3 separate regions of the Homo sapiens genome follow, and regions 2 and 3 are each linked to region 1. The links come from fine-mapping of genetic effects on gene expression. A gene starts in region 1. Each other region holds a variant in brackets. All regions are shown on one strand. Distances are from middle to middle. Region 1 holds the start of CAMK2D (calcium/calmodulin dependent protein kinase II delta). Region 2 has its middle 29 kb from the start of CAMK2D. Region 3 has its middle 36 kb from the start of CAMK2D.

What was found. PIP is the estimated chance that this variant, and not a neighbour inherited with it, causes the effect.
Region 2: its variant is fine-mapped to the expression of CAMK2D in whole blood (TOPMed, PIP above 0.99).
Region 3: its variant is fine-mapped to the expression of CAMK2D in whole blood (INTERVAL, PIP above 0.99). The same link has a PIP of 0.9 or more in monocytes.

The regions. Positions count from the first base shown.
Region 1 is chr4:113,758,297-113,765,038 of GRCh38, forward strand. CAMK2D (calcium/calmodulin dependent protein kinase II delta) reads right to left here and starts at 3,442. Exons shown (of 21, transcript NM_001321571.2): 1 at 2,708-3,442; 2 at 1,024-1,118. The coding sequence starts at 2,772. RefSeq lists a silencer at 3,229-3,638 and enhancers at 3,632-4,170, 4,171-4,709.
Region 2 is chr4:113,787,192-113,793,933 of GRCh38, forward strand. No RefSeq gene overlaps it. Among named protein-coding and RNA genes, the nearest start is that of CAMK2D, 29 kb to the left of the region's middle. RefSeq lists a silencer at 1,882-1,941. The variant C/T (reference allele first, on the strand shown) is at 3,557.
Region 3 is chr4:113,794,723-113,801,464 of GRCh38, forward strand. No RefSeq gene overlaps it. Among named protein-coding and RNA genes, the nearest start is that of CAMK2D, 36 kb to the left of the region's middle. The variant G/A (reference allele first, on the strand shown) is at 3,450.

The DNA.
Region 1 (6,742 bases):
AATACCAACCTAAACCTAAAATGCATGTTAAAAGTAGAATTTGCAATAAATATGGAAAAACTAATCATGGCAGAGACCGAAAGCAATGATGCCAGGATTTTGGTAAGAAGCACTTTTGAAAAGACATATTAAATGAGGAAAACTAAACCTAATGGAATTTCTTCTCTCATTACTTAAAATAAACCAGGTCACTGAGATGAGCGTACACTATGGTATTTTGTTCATTTTCATTTCATTTTTATACCATAAATTCCCATGGAAATACCTCAGACACGTGCCCACAATAATTGGAATGCCTAACATTTCAGCGTAAGTACTTTTGCATGAGTTCTACTAAATAAAAAGAATGCAGTGAGAGCCCTCCAAGTTTTTTGGTTATGTCAACAGCTATTTTACGAGTATGAATTATCTCTGTACCTATAAACTACATGTGTAAAATACATTACATGAGTCTGTGTGAAGCCTTAATGCGAAGACCAAGGTCTGAGCTGCACACAGAAACATCAAAATAAAACTAAACTTCCTAGAATATAGCAATCATAAATTTTCTTACCAAAGCTATTACTGTTAAATATACCTTGATGAATTAAGTTCAAGTGTAACTACAATTGAAATGTATGATTCAACTGAGCTATGACCTACTTCCCTCTCAAAAGCAAAAGGGAATTATGACAGTTGTGAGACTTATATTTTTCCATTCCATGGTCTAAAAGTTGTTTTATACTTAAACTATAAGCAAAATGCACCTGACATTTATTTGCTTTAAAATATAGTTATTCATGCTATTGCTCATAGGACAGATAGAATTTTAATAGCAATGTATCAAATAATAATTATATCTTTCCATGTATTTTTAAGCTGTACAGACCAAGAAGCATTCAGGAAGAAAATAATCTTAATATATAATATGATACCTAAGTCTAAAGTTCAGTTATAACTACATGATATATTTACATACAACAGAACCTATAATCAACATGACAAATACAAAATTAACCAATATATGTGGTTGAAAATACCCACCCCTAGCAGAAAGCTTTTTGGTGTTGATAATTTTGGCAGCATATTCTTGTCCAGTAGGAATTTTCATACATCTTCTCACCACTGAGAATGCCCCCCTGGAAACCAATAATTAGCAGGTCATTAATATAACAGATATAATATTTCATTAAAAATTTATAAAATCTGAGCATTTTTATTGATTTTAGTGGATTGCCAGTGAAGTACAGTAATATCCAGTAAATGAACAATTCTTCCTGGAAACCCAGACTTTCTTTAATGTTGAAGAATAAAAGTAAATTTTATTTAACTGGGAGCACACATTATTAATCAACAAAATGAAAGGAACTGCCAATTATGACCGCTCTTGTTTGCACAAGAAATTTGAAAACATTTTACAGTTCACACTCACAGCACCAAATGCTCTGAGAAAAACCCTGCACAGAACAGAGCAGACGAGGAGCAGCAAAAAAATCTGCTGCCTACTTATTTTGGTAGGAAACAAAAAATTAATGTGGTTCCAAGTAAGTAAACATGACGATTATTTTCATTAAAATATAAATCTTGAGCACATTAGTGTGGTTTAACAAATCCTGGTATGGTGATTTCTCTATGCCTTGTTTTGGACTGGGGGAGGGGAGAGATTTGAATTAAGCTGCTCTTCCGACATATTCTCCATGTTTTAACACCAGACAATATATACATATGTAATTTTTATTACTTTTAAAAATATTTACCTTTCCTTTAATTACAGTATAAACCAACAACATACATATAAACGCACTCCTTTCATAAAAGTAACAGTCGAAACTAGTGAAAGAGGAATTGGGTTTGGGTTCCATGCTACAAAAATCAGCATTCACGGCTTGGCCCCTAGGTCCCTTTGCATAAGTCCTCAGTAGGTCTCCTGCCTCCTTCCCTAACATCTCCAAGTAGTTCTGCCAGTCGGGTGAAGGAGGTGGTTTTACACAATGCTAGGCTACGCTTAAGAGCGCTCTCAGTCTCCAGAGGGCTTTTCCGTTGCCTGTATAAATAAATCCTCCCAGAGAACGCAAAGATGCACACGTAAATCCTAGGAAGAATGATGGTGAGCGGTAATCTGGTGCAAAGAACAACACTGGATATAGGGCAAGGGGTTGGGTTCTGTTGGGTGGCCCTTTTCCTGGACAGAACAACTACTGGATGCGAAATAGACTCTATGCCAAGTTGAACTTTCGGCATCAATAAATATGGCACCGTCTGAGGCTGTGAGTTCTCATCAGTACCTGGGTCATACGGCCGACACGCCGGCTAACCAGGAGGCATCTCTATTTACAGAAAACATGATCTATGTTGCATTTTACATGGGTTCTAATTTCCTCTCCAAACACACATTACACACAGGCGCGCGCGCACACTTCTCAGGATGATAGCTACAACTGCAGAGATCGTAAATTCACTAAGTCTCTCAGTGCAGGAGGGTGGGGGACCGGGAGAAGGTGGGCTAGGGACCATCAAAATGAGCCACAGTTGGAGTAAGGGTCCTACCCCTTCTGTGCTCCCTCCCTTTATTAAGACAGCACCTTCCCCAGAGCTGACAAACCAGGGGCCCTCCTCCCATTCCTCTCCCAAACTCCCTCGCCCCAAGACGGAGGCCGGTGGGTCGGGGGCAACGCGACCCGCCCTCAGCTGGAAAGGGGATATGCGGATGCCGGGCAAAGGTGCTTACTTTCCAAGCTCCTCGAAAAGCTGATACTCGTCCGTGAACCTGGTGCAGGTTGTGGTCGAAGCCATCCTCGGTCCGGGCTGTGCCCTGGCTGGGAGCGCGACGGACCAGAAGCGAGCAGACGCGCGGCTAACCCCGGGACTGGCCCCGCGGCGCTGTCACCCAGGGCCGCTCTTACTTTCCTGGTCCGAAAGTAGCTCGCCCGCGAGGGAGTGTGCGCAGGGGCGGGGCGGGAGGGGAGATGACCAGAAAGGGTGGCGTGGGGTCTCCTCCCCACAGTCCGCCGATCCTCCTCCTCCTGCGGGCCTCGCTTCCTTCTTCTCCACTGGACGCTCCACCCGCCCCTTTTCCAGTCCCTGTCCCCAAATGCAGGGGGTAAAGTACTCAAGAAGAGGGGGCCGGGAAATGGAAAAACAGCCAGGCACGGGACGAGTGGCAAGCAGTTGCGAAACGATCCGCACTGGAGCAGGAGGAGTAGAAGCAGAGGGGAGGGAGTCCGAGGGGGCGGAGGTGGAGTGCAGCGGGGCCGAGGCCGCGGAGCCCAGAGCGGACAGCCTGAGCCCAGCGGCCGCTGTCAGCAGGCTCAGGCGCGGGGCGCGCCGGGGCTCCGACGAGCGTGCGCGCCCGAGGCCGGCTTCCCTCCGGCGGGCGGCAGCGGCTCCGGCGAAGCGAGGCACCTTGGCGGCCTCGCGCTGCTCACGAGCCCGCGCGGCTTCAAGACGGCGCGGCGAGAGAAAGAGCGCTCGGCTCAGGCGAAGCCTCTTCTGCCGTCCCCAGGCCTCCGTCTCCTCCTCCGGCGCCTCCTCCCGCCGCTCCCTCCGCCTGCCAGCACCCCCTCCCTGGCGAAGCCCCCTCCTCGCTGGTCCCACACCTCCCTCTAGCGACTCCAAGCCTGTCCCTTCGTGGATCTCTCGCACTCCCTCCTTTGGTTGCACACACGAGCACACCAGTCTAGGGAGAAACCAGGTGGGTGGAGGAGGATGTGCGGGGGAGAAGACTGGAGGTTTGGGTGAATGAGGCGAGAAGTCACAGTTACCCATTTAAACCCGCACAGAGAAGGCTGCCTCAATCTGGGGCTGACTGAGCGGGAAGATGCAGGGCAACTCGAGGATGGCCCGGGGCAGCCGCCCTGGGTCGCGGAAGCCCACGCCCCTGTTTTGGGCGCCGGGCAGCAGGGACTTCTCCAGGCCGGTTCCCGGGCCACGACACCCGGTGGGCCGAGCAAGGGAGAGCAACCACTTCATCTCCACGCCGCTCAGAGTTGACACAGCAGGGGCCGGATGTGGGCTGTTCACTGCTCTCAGAGAAGGGTCCCAACCCTTCCCACAGCCACCAGCGACTGTCGGGGCAAAACCCAGCCTCAGCAGGGTTCACTGCGTCGCCAGCTCCCCAGAACCGGGCGCAGGTTTTCTCCCTCCCCCGCAGCCCCTTCTGCAAGGGGCAATGACGGCCCCTGAGCCACATTACACTTGCCACCTCCAGGCCCACCTCCCCCGCTGTTTTCCAGGATGGTGGCTGAGACTCTGGCAATCCCCAAAGGCCTTTGCTTTGGCTGTGAACGTTAAAAGAATGAAAGCAAAAACTCCGCCGCACAACCACACCTTCCCTTCCCTTCTGAGTAACTCCCCTGCAACCTCAGTAAGTTCTGATAGTAAGGCGAATTCTCGCGATATTTCCCACTCTGGCGGTCAGGGGGAGGTAGTAGGAAGGCTGGGTGTCGGTCACGCGACCCGGCGGGGGCTGACGTCATTCACATCACGTGAACACGTCTAGACTGTTTCGCTTTGCAAAGGGAAAAAAGAAAAGGGGCCGTCGTGTGTGCTTTTGCTTTCAGCCAGATAGTGGCAATTGAGTGCACTCCGTAAATGGCTATCTGGAAAAACCATTTAGCAGTTCAAGAATGTGTCCTTCCCTTTAGCATATCTGCCATTGTTTTCAGTAGGAGGAAAAAAAAAGTATGCATTACGATTTAAAATAGATAAACTGCTGCCGATTGCTAGAACAACTTCTGGGCCCTCTTTCCAGTTCTCCTTAATGAAACTATGCAATTGCAAATTTAGCCGCAGACCAAAAACAGCGTTATGGACGGTCTTTTTCAAATTACTGCCAATTGTTCTACAGCACGGGACTATAAAAACCTTGCAATCCTATTGCTAATTTGCTCGTGGTATTACTTCATAGACAAAATTTCACAGCTGAAAGATAAAAGATAATTTGCAGACACAAGAGAATCTAAGATTTAAAGGCGCTGCTGCTTGCTCCCAAAGACTGCTATTAATTAATGTTACTTTGTGGTCATAGATAATCCTAATTCCTTTTTTCCTGATCTGGGGAACGCTTCTGCCAATGAGTGAGCTTTTTACTGAAGTACTAAAAATGTTCACAAATTTTAACGTTTATTACAACAAAATTGAAGTTCGTATGTGTTTTGATTCCCAGCCGTAAAAGGCAAGAAATAACTGTGTAAAATGTAGTGCTATAGAAAAAGATGATACCAAGAACTGCATAAAAGAAACATGGTCTCTAAATATTAATAATTGGGCTATAAATTGAAAAAAAAAACACAATTTGGTCTTGGCTAAAGATTTGTAATATCTGAACTATTTAGCAATGTGGCTCCAAGGTGATAATGAAATAATTTAATATTTTTCCCTGAATCTAAGAATGAAACAGAAAAAGTAAAATTAAAACAATAAAGGTAATATAAAAATTTACATCTGGGAAGAAAATTGTTTCTTAAATATTCAAGTAATGAAGTCTACATAATTACAGTATTTATCTCAGTTATTTAAACTACCAATAATTGTAAATGGTTATAATTGTGGAGTACAATAAAGGAAACATAACTGAGTTTTAATACTGATGTATTATTAGACAATAAATGTGTACATTTTTTACAGCAAACACTGCTTAATCTGTACGTACCCTTTCTTTGATTTATATTTTAGACTAAATATTTCTCTTATTTGAACAAATATTTACAGTTATTTCTGAAGTTTGAACCTCCTTAAAAAGTAGTCAGATTAGCCGGGCGCAGTGGCTCACGCCTGTAATCTCAGCACTTTGGGAGGCCGAGGCGGGTGGATCATCTGAGGTCAGGGGTTCGAAACCATCCTGGCCAACATGGCAAAACCCCGTCTCTAATAAAAATACAAGATTAGTCGGGCATGGTGGCATATGCTTGTAATCCCAGCCACTTTGGAGGGTGAGGCAGGAGAATCGCTTGAACCTGGGAGAAGGAGGGAGGTTGCAGTGACCCGAATTCGCGCCACTGCACTCCAGCCTGGGCAACAAGAGCAAAACTCTGTCTGAAAAAAAAAAAATAGTCAGATCAAAGACTTTGTTGTTGTTGTTCTACTTCAACATCATTTCAGGAATAGCTACAAAATAGAGATAAATTCTAAAAAGTGTAGAAATGTAGACCTATAAACATAATAACACTGGATGTTAGTGCCAAATGTATTTACATTTCATTATACATGCCTTACTAACTGCATGTCTGATGAACATGGTAGAGAAAGTTAAGAGGGAGAGTTAGTGAATAAAAAGTTAGTCATTAAAGTTGTTGAAGATAATAAGGCAGGCTTTATTCAAGGGGGTCCATGGTGATCAGAACCACTGCAACCAGGTCTTGCAGGAGGAGAGAGAGATTGGACTCTATTTCAACTCTTAAAAGGCCAAGTGGGGATTTACAAGCAAGGAGCAGGGTAGAGGGCTGTGGATATAAAATGACTAAGTATTCTCCCTCTTTCCTCTTTGGCAACTTGGAATTTAAAAAAATCCAAGACTTCAGTAGTTTCACCCAGAAAGTACAAGTTTCTAATGCTTACATTAACAAAGGCAGATATTAACAGATACTAACATTCATTGATTTCCTCTGCTACAAAGTTATAAGATAAGAAACAGCGAAGAGATAATGTTATCTCTATAGCTCCCCAAAGTGCAGAGTCCATCAGTAAATAGCAGATTCCTGTGAAAATTTTAGCAGGTGCTGTGTTGAAGCCACTCTTCACTGCAGATTTGGAGGCTAGGGGAAAA
Region 2 (6,742 bases), 29 kb after region 1:
CTATAATCTGAAGCATAGAGTCTAAATAGTTATAGATAATTATTACTGGTAGCTATTCTTAACTATTTTTATGAGCTTTATACTAAAACTACTAAGACAGAGGTTCTTACAGAGCTCTTAAGGCTAGAAATGTTATTAAAATATTAGACTTGAATGAATGGGTACTTAGCGGCAGGTGAGACCTGAATGGAATAGGGGACTGATGAGTAGAGAGCTAGACAATTTTCCTACCTACATGTTTCTGAAAAGGAAGTGCTTAGATTTGCATCCCAGCTCCATCACATACTACCTGTATGGATTAAATTCATGTCATTTAACCTCTCTCATAATATTTAATATAGAAGATTGCTATGATAATAAATGAAATAAGTGCCTGACATCATGTCAGATTCAGAGTAACCACTCAATAAATGTTAATTTCTGTCCTTCTTCATCTACCACCTAAGCACACTTTGTTTTACAGTATTATGTTTATTCTTGTATATCTCAATAAACTCTCTTTTTGATAATAGGAAAAGTGTGTTGGCATTTTATCACTAGTATCTACCTGATACATGGTAGGTGATCAAAAATGTATTCTATAGATATAGCATGTTTGGAAAGTATTCCCCTTCTAAAGGAAATATTCCCTTCCTAATAGGAAGATAATATGGAAAACTTTAAGACATTCTAAATTTTACCAAGGACTTAACAACAACAAGATATATATACATCATTTATACTTTCTAGGATAGATGTCAATGAGATTTACAAAAATTAGACTGATGGAACTCTGTGGTGATAGGAATCAGAAACTTGGTCAGTTAAAACACTTAGAAGTGGGCCTTCTTCCCAGTAAAGTAGTTGAAAATACTAGACACTTGCTTTCTTGGCCTCCTTTGCTGCTGATGTGAACTTCACTAGAAAGATACATAACCCTCAGCCATGATCATGTTAAGAATTTCCTTCCCCAAGTAGGGACTTGGGGAAGATAGCACTGCTGGGAGCAGCAGTGGCCCTGGGACATAGTCCAACAAAAGTGCTAGGTGGATTGGTTGCAGAGTGGTATCTTCCACAAATTGGTTATGCAACATGATTTTGGGCATTCTTTCTCAATTTTCTTTCCTAGGGATTCTGTGAGCAATCAATACCCTTTTCAATTCTACTTGCAACAAAACAGAAAGAATAGATTTTAAATATGCTGTCACCAAAGGCGCTCCGAACATATTTCTCTTTTCTTTACATTTTATCATGTTGGTGACATCGTAAAGGAAAAGATGCTGGAGGGGGAGGGCATCTTTCAAGGAGAAAAGAAAGATTTATGTTGGTACTTAAAATGAGTTAAAATTTATTTCTAACAATATTAACAGGGACAACAACAGCTGTAGCAAGGAGAGAAAGTGTGTATAGTAGTTTAAAAATTGAAGATGAAATACTAGGATGGTGTCAGAAATTTTGAGTTTAATACTCTAGGAATAAAGTGATTCTGATTAATATGAGGGTGAATTCAGAGACAGACAAGAGTCCGATGTAACTGATTACATTAGCTCCCTTCCTCAATAACGTTGCTGGCTACTGCCAAAACATTCCCACATCTAATTATTCCAGCACTGCTGCCCTTCCATATCATCAAATTTTCATTCTCTACTGGATAATTTAAATCAACATGCACATATACTGTAATATCTCTCACCTACAAAACCCTGCCCTGTTCCTATATCATCTTCTGTTTATATTCTACTCTACTTGTAGCAAAACTCAAGGAATAATTATCTAAACTCATCTTTATTTCCTCTCTTCTCATTCTCTCTTGAACCCACTTCATAAATCTTTCTTCCCCATTTAACCAAAACTACTCTTGTCAAGACCTTTTGTGATCTCTTTGTTGCTCATTTCAACAGTTTACTTTCAGTTCTCAAATTTCTTGACCCCTTCCAACAGAATTAGGCACAGTTAATTAGTCTCTCACTTTTGAACTACTTTTTGTGCTTGGACTTTAGGACAACAAATTCTCCCCTATCTCACTTTTCATTCTTTTCCCTTCTTTTGTGGGTTATCTCTCATTTTTCCAATCTCTAAGCTTTGGAATATCTCAAAGCTCAATTGTTAGAATACCACTCTTTTCTATGTAAACTCATTCCATAAGTGATCTCAATCCAATTTGCTTTAAATGCTATAGATTTCAAGATTCATAACTCCAGCCTAGATTTCACTCTTGTATGTCCAATTATCTACCTGATGTCTCCATTTGAATGTCTAATAGACATTTCAAACATTACATGTCTTAAACCAGACACCTGATTCCTCTATCAATAAACACTAGAATCAGCTCTTTCTGTAATCTTGTCCGTATGTAATTTCTGTTATGCATCATTTGACAATGGGGATATGTTCTGAGAACCATGTCCTTAGGTAATTTCCTAATTGTGCAAACTAAAAGTGTACTTATACAAACCTAGATGTTACAGCCTACTATAAATCTGGGCTATATGGTATGGCCTATTTCTCCTAAGTTACAAACCTGAACAGCGTGAGTGCTGCAGGCAGTTATAACACAATGGTAAGTATTTCTGCATCTACACATGTGTAAATATAATCTTCTGAGACCACCATTGTATAAGCGGTCAATCATTGACTAAAACATTGTTGTATGGCACATAACTGTATACAGTTAATTAAAATTCCATCTCTGCAGTTGTTTAAGCAAAACTCTAAAGTTGTATTTGCCTCCTTTCTTTATCTCACATTCAAACTATCAGCAAATATTGTTGGTTATACCTCAAAATGTATCTTAAATTTGACCATTTTTCAATATCTCCATTGCTACTACTTTGGTTCAAGATACAATACATCTTGCCTGAATTACTGTAAAAGCCTTCAACTGGTTTCCCCACTTGTGCTCTAGACTCCTAGTCTCTCTTTTCCACCTAGCAATCAGTGTGAATTTTTTAAAATAGGTCAGAGTATGTCATTTTTTTTCTATATTCAGTAAAATCCAAAGCCTATTCTCTGACCTTCAGTGCCCTACATAGTCTTCCTCCTGTTACTTCGCTGAATTTAACTACTCCTATTCTCACTTTGTTCACTGTGTTCCAGCCTTACTGGCCTCCTTGCTATTTCCCTCTCACCAAGTACCCACCTAATTTTGCAGTTGTCATTTTCTCGGCATAGGACATAGATAGCCAAGACATAATTTTCTTTTCCCATTTCTTTCTAGTCCTTCTTTAATTGTCACTTTGTTGTGAGACATAACATTCTCCCTAGACCCTATATGTCCATGAAGCTGTCTATGGTACTGGATTATAGTCATCTCTCACTTATTGCCTTAGAGCCTAGGCCTCAGATGGTGACCTAATACCTGCCTTAAAACTTACTTTTCCTGACTCCAATTAACCTCCATAGCTAGTTGCCAGCCCTACCTTTGGTCTTCCTTAATTTAGATCACAATTAAAACCAGCTTCCCACTGAGAAGTTCCTCAAACCTACAGCTCAGTTCTCTGGCCTGTTTCCTCATATTGCCGTGCTTGTTGCTTTCCTTTTGAACTTTGATGATGAAAGAGGGAAGTCTGTAAAACTT[C/T]CAGTTCCAAAATGATGGTGTAGAAGCAAGCTGGCTTTACTACCCCAAAAGAAAACCAAAATCAAATATACAGTACCAAGATTATCACCAGCAATATACAAGAACACAAATATGAAAAGGAGACAGTTCTCAGGGGCCACAGAGAACTGAAAAACTCTGAGAAGAAAGTAAAGAATTAGCCTTTCATATCTGAGATACTTCTCTTCCCAATCTGCCCAGAACCAAGTACATGGAAAATTTCCCCCATCTCACAGTTTCTAAACTGAAAAAAGTAAGATTGAGTTGAATAACCAAATTCTCCACCATCTGGGGATCCCTGGAAGTAGACATGTCCCTGTCTCAACCCATGAGAAGCATTGAGAGTGCCTAAAAGAAGAAATGTCCTGAGGATAGCCAGAGACAAAGGAGAGAGGCAGGATTACCATCCCCAGCCCTGGAAACTCTGCTTTTTAATTCAGCCAAAGGAGGTGGCAAATTAGAGTGGCTGTTCAGCAGCCCTATGCTGTAGGAGGTTTGTTCCACAGGTACCCTGAGCATGAACCCCTAGAAAGCCATCCCACACTACCAGGATATCCCATTTGGGATCTCTCCCATATGGGATGGGTGGTGATTGCTTACTAGAATTGAGGCAAACCTGGGCAGAAGGTGTCATTTAGTGTTGAAAAGGAGGCAGCAACCTGGGGGACAAAAAGAAAATAATCTAATAAATTATAAAGACTGCCTAAGGAAACATATCCAATAAAAACCAAAGCAAGCCAGACAAAGAAGACTGGAATAAATAACCAACTTTTCAATGCAAATACATAGATGTACATACACAAGAAACAACAGCAAGCAGGGGGCTATGACTTTCCCCTGAAAAAAGCAATTCAGTAATTAAAGAAATTTAACGAAGAGATTGAAGTAATAGGATGAAAATCAAACAGAAATCTTGAAACTGAGAAATACATTTGCTGAGTTGAAAAATTCACTGGAGGCTCTCAACAGTGCAATGAATCAGAGGAAAGAATCAGTGAGCTAGAAGATAAGCTATTTGAAAATATATAGTGAAAAGAGAAAAAAAAAAGAATGAAAAGAAACAAAGATTGCCTGTAAGATATAAAAAATGACATCAACTCGCTTGAGCCTAGGAAGTCAAGGCTGCAGTGAGTGATAATTGAACCACTGCAATCCAGCCTAGGTGTTAGAGCAAGACCCTGTAAAAAAGAAAAGAAAAAGATGATAGAAAAAGAAAATTACCTCAAAATACTAAATCTAAGAACAATCAGCATTCAAGATAGACTTGAGCAAGAGCAAGGGGTAGAAAGCTTATTCAAAGAAAGAATAACGGAAAACTTTTCAAATCTTGAGAAAAAGATAAATATCCAGGTACAGGAAAGCCAGAGAACATTAAACAGATGCAACCCAAATAAAACTACCTCAAGGCATATAATAATCAACCTCTTTGTCAAGAACAAAGTGAGGATCCAGAAAGCAGCAAGAGAAAAGAAGCAAATAACATATAACAGAGCTCTAATTGGTGTGGCAATCAACTTCTCAATGGAAACCATACAGGCCAGTGGGGAGGGAGATGACATTTTCAAAGTGTTGAAAGCAAAAAAAAAAAAAAACTCTGCCATTCAAGAATACTGTATTCAGCTAAGTTATCCTTTAAATATGAAGGAGAGATAAAGTTTTTACCAGACAAACAAAAGGTGGGAGAATTCACCACCACCAGACTCATCTTACAAGAAATGCTAAAGGGTGTTCTTCAATCTGAAAGAAAAAGAAAACTAACATACAAAAATAAAAAAAAATGAAGGTATAAAACTCACTGGTAAAACTAAGTACAGAAAAACCCAGAATACTCTAATACTGTAATTGTCAGGTGCAATTCATTCATAACTCTAGTATGAAGCCCAAAAGACAAATCTATTTAAAACAATGATGACTACAACAACCTGTCAAGATATATGACATATAAAATATGCACATTGAGACAACAGAAAGCCAAAATTGGGGTAGAGGGGATGGAGTTAAAGTTTAGAGATTTTTCCACTTTTTGTTTGTTTCTATTTTTTTCATTGAGCTCTAAGATAAGTTGTCAACTATTTAAAATAGTCATACCTATATGATGTTTTTTGTAACCCTCATGGTAACCACAATGTAAACCTATATTTATTCACTAAATGTAAAAAGCAGTAAATTAAAACATGCTACCAGAGAAAAGCACTTAACAAAAAAGCAGAGAAGAAAGGAGTTACAAATCACCCAGAAAACAAGCAACAAAATGGCAGTACTAAGTCCTCACCTATCAGTAATAACACAATGTAAATGGACTCAATTCTTCAGTTAAGAGAAACACAGTGGCCCAATGAATAAATAAATAAGACCCAATTATATGCTGCCTATAGGAAACCCACTTCACCTATAAAGACACACACAGACTTAAAGTGAAGGAGTGGAAAAAGATATTCCAGGCAACTGAAAACCAAAAAAGAGCAGGAGTAGCTGTACATGTATCAGATAAAATAGACTACAAATCAGAGACTGTCAAAACAGACTAAGAAGGTCAGTAGATAATGATAAAGGGATTAATTTAGCAAAAGAATATAAGACTTATAAATATCCACGTACCAAACACTGGTGCTACCAAATATATAAAGTAAACATTAATAGATTTAAAGGCAGGGATAGACTGCAATACAATCATAGTATGGGACTTCAGCACATCATTCTCAGTAATGGACAGATCATCCAGACAGAAAATCAACAAAGAAACATCAGAGTTAAACCACACACTAGATCAAATAGTTCTAACTAACATTTAGAGGACATTTCACCCAACTGCTGCAGAATACACATTCTTTTCATAAGCACATGGAACATTTTCCAGAATAGACCAAATCTTAGTCCACAAAAAAGTCTTAACATATTCAGAAAAGTAGAAATCACAACAACTATCTTTTCCTGACCACAATGGAATAAAACTAGAAATCAACAAGAGGAACCTCAGAAACTACACAAACACATGAAAATTAAACAATATGTTCCTGAATCGCCAATGGGTCAATGACAAAATTAAGAAGAAAATTTAAAATTTTCTTGAAACAAATGAGAATGGAAACACAACATACTAAAATCTCTGGGATACAATAAATGCAGTGCAAAGAGACAAGTTTATAGCAATAAATGCCTATATAAAAA
Region 3 (6,742 bases), 36 kb after region 1:
AATCAAGAAACATGATACATCACAGAAGCAGAATCAAGAACAAATAATTGGGCTGGGCGCAGTGGCTCAGCCTGTAATCCCAGCACTTTGGGAGGCCGAGGTGGGCGGATCACAAGGTCAGGAGTTCGAGATCAGCCTGCCCAATAAGGTGAAACCCCATCTCTACTAAAAATACAAAAATTAGCCAGGCGTGGTGGCGGGCGCCTGTAGTCCCAGCTACTCAGGAGGCTGAGGCAGGAGAATTGTTTAAACCCGGGAGGTGGAGGTTGCAGTGAACTGAGATTGCACAACTGCACTCCAGCCTGGGCAACAGAGTGAGACTCTGTCTCAGGAAAAAAAAAAAAAAAAAAAAAGAATCATATAATGATGTTAATAGATGCTGCAAAAGCATTTTGTAAAATTGGACATTTCTTTAGGAAAAAACCCCATACAATCTGGATAGAAAGGAAACATACCTTAAATTAATAAAGTCCAAACATGGCAAATCCACAGCTAACATCAGACTGAATGCGGAACAATTGAAAGCCTTTCCTCTAAGATCTATAACAAGACAAGTATGCCCACTTTCATCACCTTTATTCAACATAATACTGAAAATCCTGACCAGAGCAATTAGGCAAATAAAATGAAGGGCGTCCAAAATGGAAAAAAAAAAAGTCCAATTAGCCTTGTTCGTAGATAACATAAAATTGTACTTTAAAAAGCCTAAAGATTCCACCAAGAAACAGTGAAAACCAATAAATAATTCCATTTACAATAGCTACAAAATACTTAGGAATCAATTTAACCAAGAAGTGAAACACCTACACAAGAAATATATAAAATACTGATGAGTTAAGTTGAAGAGGATACAAAAAAAGGAAAGATATTCCATGCTCATGGATTGGAAGAATTAATATTGTTAAGTTGGCAATATAATTCAAAGCAATTTGCAGATTCAGTGCAATTCCTATTAAAATACCACTGACATTTTTCACAGAAATAGAAAAACAGTCTTACATTTTTATGGAATCACAAAAGATGCCAAGTAGCCAAAGCATTCCTTAGCAATAAATGACAAAACTAGAGGCATCACACTACCTGACTTAAAAATATACTACAAAGCGCTCTCCCTCTCCCTCTCCCGCTCCCTCTCCCGCTCCCTCTCCCTCTCACTCTCCCTCGTCTCCGTCTCCCGCTTTCCACTCTCTCCCCCTCTCCCTCGTCTCCGTCTCCCGCTTTCCATGGTCTCCCTCTGTTGCCGAGGCTGGACTGTACTGCTGCCATCTCAGCTCACTGCAACCTGCCTGCCTGATTCTCCTGCCTCAGCCTGCCGAGTGCCTGGGATTGCAGGCGCGCGCTGCCACGCCGGACTGGTTTTTGTATTTTTTGGTGGACACGGGGTTTCGCCGTGTTGGCCGGGCTGGTCTCCAGCTCCTGACCTTGAGTGATCTGCCCGCCTCGGCCTCCCGATGTCCCGGGATTGCAGACGGAGTCTCGCTCACTCAGTGCTCAATGTTGCCCAGGCTGGAGTGCAGTGGCGTGATCTCGGCTGGCTACAACCTCCACCTCCCAGCCACCTGCCTTGGCCTCCCAAAGTGCTGAGATTGCAGCCTCTGCCCAGCCGCCACCCCATCTGGGAAGTGAGGAGCGTCTCTGCCTGGCTGCCCATCATCTGGGATGTGAGGAGCCCCTCTGCCCGGCAGCCCAGTCTGGGAAGTGAGGAGCGCCTCTTCCTGGCCGTCATCCCGTCTAGGAAGTGAGGAGCCTCTTTGCCTGGCCGCCCATCATCTGGGATGTGGGGAGCGCCTCTGCCTGGCCGCCCCGTCTGGGATGTGAGGGGCGCCTCTGCCCGGCCACCCCCGTCTGGGAGGTGAGGAGCGTCTCTACCCGGCCGCCACCCCGTCTGGGAGGTGAGGAGCGCCTCTGCCCGGCGGCGACCCCATCTGGGAACTGAGGAGCGCCTCTGCCCGGCCACCACATCTGGGAAGTGAGGGGCCCCTCTGCCCAGCACCACCCCGTCTGGGAGGTGTACCCAACAGCTCATTGAGAACAGGCCATGATGACGATGGCGGTTTTGTCGAATAGAAAAGGGGGAAACGTGGGGAAAAGAAAGAGAGATCAAATTGTTACTGTGTCTGTGTAGAAAGAAGTAGACATAGGAGACTCCATTTTGTTCTGTACTAAGAAAAATTCTTCTGCCTTGGGATCCTGTTGATCTGTGACCTTACCCCCAACCCTGTGCTCTCTGAAACATGTGCTGTGTCCACTCAGGGTTAAATGGATTAAGGGCGGTGCAAGATGTGCTTTGTTAAACAGATGCTTGAAGGCAGCATGCTCGTTAAGAGTCATCACCACTCCCTAATCTCAAGTACCCAGGGACACAAACACTGCGGAAGGCCGCAGGGTCCTCTGCCTAGGAAAACCAGAGACCTTTGTTCACATGTTTATCTGCGGACCTTCTCTCCACTATTGTCCTATGACCCTGCCAAATCCCCCTCTCCGAGAAACACCCAAGAATGATCAATAAATACTAAAAAAATTAAAAATATATATATACTACAAAGCTATAGTAATCAAAACAACATGGTTTACAGTCATAAAAACAGAAACGTAGACCAATGGAACATAATGGAGAACCCAGATATACATTTATGTATTTACAGCCGACTCATTTTTTACAAAGATGCCAAGAACATACAATAGGGAAAGGACAGTCTCTTTAATAAATGATGCTGGAAAACTGGATAATCATATGCAGAAGAATGAAACTAGACCCCTATGTCTCACCACATACAAAAAATCAAATCAATATGCATTGAAGACTTAAATCTAAGACCTATCAAACTATGAAACTACTAGAAGAAATCATGGAAATCCTCCAGGATATTGTACTAGGCAAAGTTTTTTGTGTAAGACCTCAAAAGCACAGGCAACCAAAGCAAAAAATGGGCAGATGGGATTACATCAAACTAAAAATCTTATCACACACACATCAACACAGTAAAAAACCCACAGAATGCAAGAAAATATTTGCAAACTACCCATCTGAAAAAAGATTAATAACCAAAATATATAAGGAGCTCAAACAACTCAATAGTGGAAAAAAACCCAAATAATCCAATTAAACAATAGGCAAAACTTCTGAATAGACATTTCTCAAGAGAAGCCATACAAATGGCCAAGAGGTATGTGAAAAAGTGCTCAACATCTCTGATCATCAGAGAAATGCAACTCAAAACCAAAAATAAGATATCATCTCACCACAGTTAAAATACCTTTTATCAAAGATATAGGGAATAATGAATGCTGGCTAGGATGCAGAGAAAAAGGAACACATGTACACTGTTTTTGGGAATGTAAATTAGTACAGCCACTATGAAAAACACTGTAAAGTTTCCTCAGAAAAACAAAAAATAGAACTACCATTTGATTCAGCAATTTCACTTCTGGGTATATATCCAAAAGAT[G/A]GGATATCAATATATTGAAGAGATATCTACACTCCCACATTTATTGAAGCACTATTTACAATAGCCAAAATATGAAATCAATCTTTAAGTGTCCATCAATGGATGAATAAAAAATGTGGCATATATACACAATGGAATATTACTCAGCTATTAAAAAGGAAAGAAATCCTGTCATTTGCAGCAACATGAATGAAACTGGAGATAATTATGTTAAGTAAGTGAAGCACAGAAAGACAAATATATTGCATGTTTTCATTTATATATGGGAGCTAAAAAAGTGGATCTCATGAAGATAGAGAGTAAATTGGTGATTACCAGAAGCCAGAAAGGGGAGGGGAGAAGGGGATGAGGAGAGGTTGACTAATGAATACAAATATATAGTTTAATAGAAGACATAAATCTAGCTTTTGATAGATTAGTAGGGTGACTGTGTTCTACAATAATCTATTGTATATTTCAAACTAGCTAGAAGAGAACAATTTAAATGTTTCTAGCATCAAGAAAATACAAGTATTTAAGGTGACTTAAGGTGATCAATTACACTGATCTAATCTTCACAAATTAAATAAATATACAAAATTATCACATGCACCCTCAAAATATTTACATCTCTTCTATATCAATGAAATAAAGAAAACAGAGTTTTTTAAAAGAAGGAAGACTGTAGAAGTTGAAGGGAAGACAGGAACAGATGTGCCAGCTGTCGAGGTTTGACTTCTTAATAGGCTTTAGTTAGAGTCTAATCTTTCCCTAGGATTCCTTTTGCAAATTAGATAAACTATACTGTGTCCAAGAAATAAACTCTACTTTGGCAAAATTCAAATAATATAACCATATTTCTTCTAAATACAAGTGTATAGCATCAGGAATTGGGTATAAATAGAATATTACTTTATCATTCAGGAAAAGAAAAGTTTAATCAGCTGTCAAAAGGTACTGAACTAAAGCTTAATGATTTATATTAGTATTTCCAGATTATATAAACTTAGCATAGGCGGGTATATAAAAAAGTTCATGGAGATGAAAAGTCTATTTGTGGTCCTAATTATTTTAAATTTGAAAATAATGAGCTACATGGAAAGTCAGAACAAAAACAAGCTTAAAAGAAAAGGAAAATGCTGGTTAGGAGGAGAGAGTTTCAGAGAATTAGATGAAATAAATTCAGAAATGTTTTGGGCCAAAATACCATCACCACTGTTGTTTGAATAACAATTTAAATGGCCTTTTCTATTGCCATTATTTATCTCTCTTTTCTCTCTATCAGGAGACAGTGATTTGTCTGAAACATGCTACTACCTTGTTTAAAAAATCTACTATTCTTCAAATTCTAACGAATTAAGTTTGAAATCCATTGCATGACATACAGTCTTACTTTTTAAGATTTATCTCCGATTTATCTCTATTTGCATATATTTAGATGTAAAATAGATCTTCCTGACTGTGCAAGGCACTTTTGCTCTCCCAGGCCTTTGGTTAGGTTATTTTCCAACGCAACAGTGCCTTTATATTCCTTTCATGGCTGGAGGAATCTTACGTATTCTTTAAGGTAAACTCAAAAGTCACTCCCTGTGAAAGGCACTAATTCAAATGGGATTTTTAAAAGTTCTCCTCATTAACCAAGGTAAAGATTTTAAAACATATAAGCTAGTATTTGTAACATACATGTAATATTTGCAAATGAAAACATGGCATGCTTGTATAGAGTTTCTCAATGCAAGAATTTAAGTCATTTAATAAATATAAAGAAAGAATTGTCTGTACCTCCAGAGTAGCTGCTATGGTAACACAAACCTAGCATCTTACAAAACAAAATAAAAAAAAACAGTGGGTGTTATGGTTTGAATGTTTGTCCCCTCCAAAACTCATGATAAAACTTAATTGCCATTGTAACTATATTAACAGTTGGGGTTACTAAGATATTAAGATCATTAAGATATTAATAGGTGATTAGGCTATAGGGCTCTACCCTCATGGGTGAGATTAATACCATTATGAAAAGACTGATTTGGCCCTTTCTTGCCCTCTCTTTGCCCTTTCACTTTATGCCATTTGATAATACAGCAAGAAGGCCCTCACGAGATGCCAGCACCTTAATATTGGACTTTCCAGCCTCCAGAACTGTTAGCCAATACATTTTTATTCATTATAAATCTCCCATTCTGTTTTTGTTTTGTTTTGTTTTGAGACAGAGTCTCGCTCTGTCGCCCAGGCTGGAGTGCAGTGGCGCAGTCTTGGCTCACTGCAAGCTCCGCCTCCCAGGTTCACGCCATTCTCTTGCCTCAGCCTCCCCAGTAGCTGGGACTACAGGCGCCTGCCACCATGCCCAGCTAATTTTTTGTATTTTTAGTAGAGACGGGGTTTCACCGTATTAGCCAGGATGGTCTTGATCTCCTGACCCCGTGATCCGCCCACCTCGGCCTCCCAAAGTGGCATCCTGTTTTATTTTGTTACAGCAGCACAAAATAGACTTAGGCAGTGGGAAAATAAAATAAAATTAAGTGTGACGATATAATCAAAGTACATATTATATTACATGCATGTAACAAAATACCCACAGACACCATAAAAATGTGCAAATATTATATATCTATAAAAATACACAAAAAACCCTGCTTAAATTCCACTGGAGGATTAACATACCAATAGCTCCTAAGAGTACATTATGCTTATCCAGATGTTTACAATGGCCAGAAATAAACTAAGGGCAACTGAAGCAATTCCTTGCTTTTGGAACTGTTAAAAAAAAATTTGCAAGATGTATTTAATTACTGACAATTTTTTTTTTTAAATGAACTCAGACAGATGCAGTTGTTCAGCTAAAGGGCTCGTTGATAGAACTGGTAAGTTATGCTTCACTCTGCTTTTAAAGATGGCTGTTAATGTGACTGATGTTTCTTGCTAACATGGTGAAATATAGTGAATCCTGATGGTTTCTTTAGCAGCTGGGTAGTAAATCTAGCAGCCAATCCAAGTTCTTATTTGTCTTGATGTTTCTTGTTTTATAGCTAGTGTAATGAAAAGCTAAGCATTCAAATAATAGGCCTGCTTACTGAGTCCACTGGCAGGTTCTGATTGGCTGGCAGACAGGCTTCCCTGTTCTAGGAAAGACATGCAAAATCCAGACCTCTTATGTTCTAGGAAAGAAAAATGTTGTTGATGACTGGCCCACAGGCCATAATTAAGAAAGAGTCTGAAGCATGATGGATATATTTTTAAAAATTTATGCTAGCATTGGAGCCATCTAATTCAAAAGTATGAAAATGAAGGCATAAAAGTAAGAGATATATTTTGTA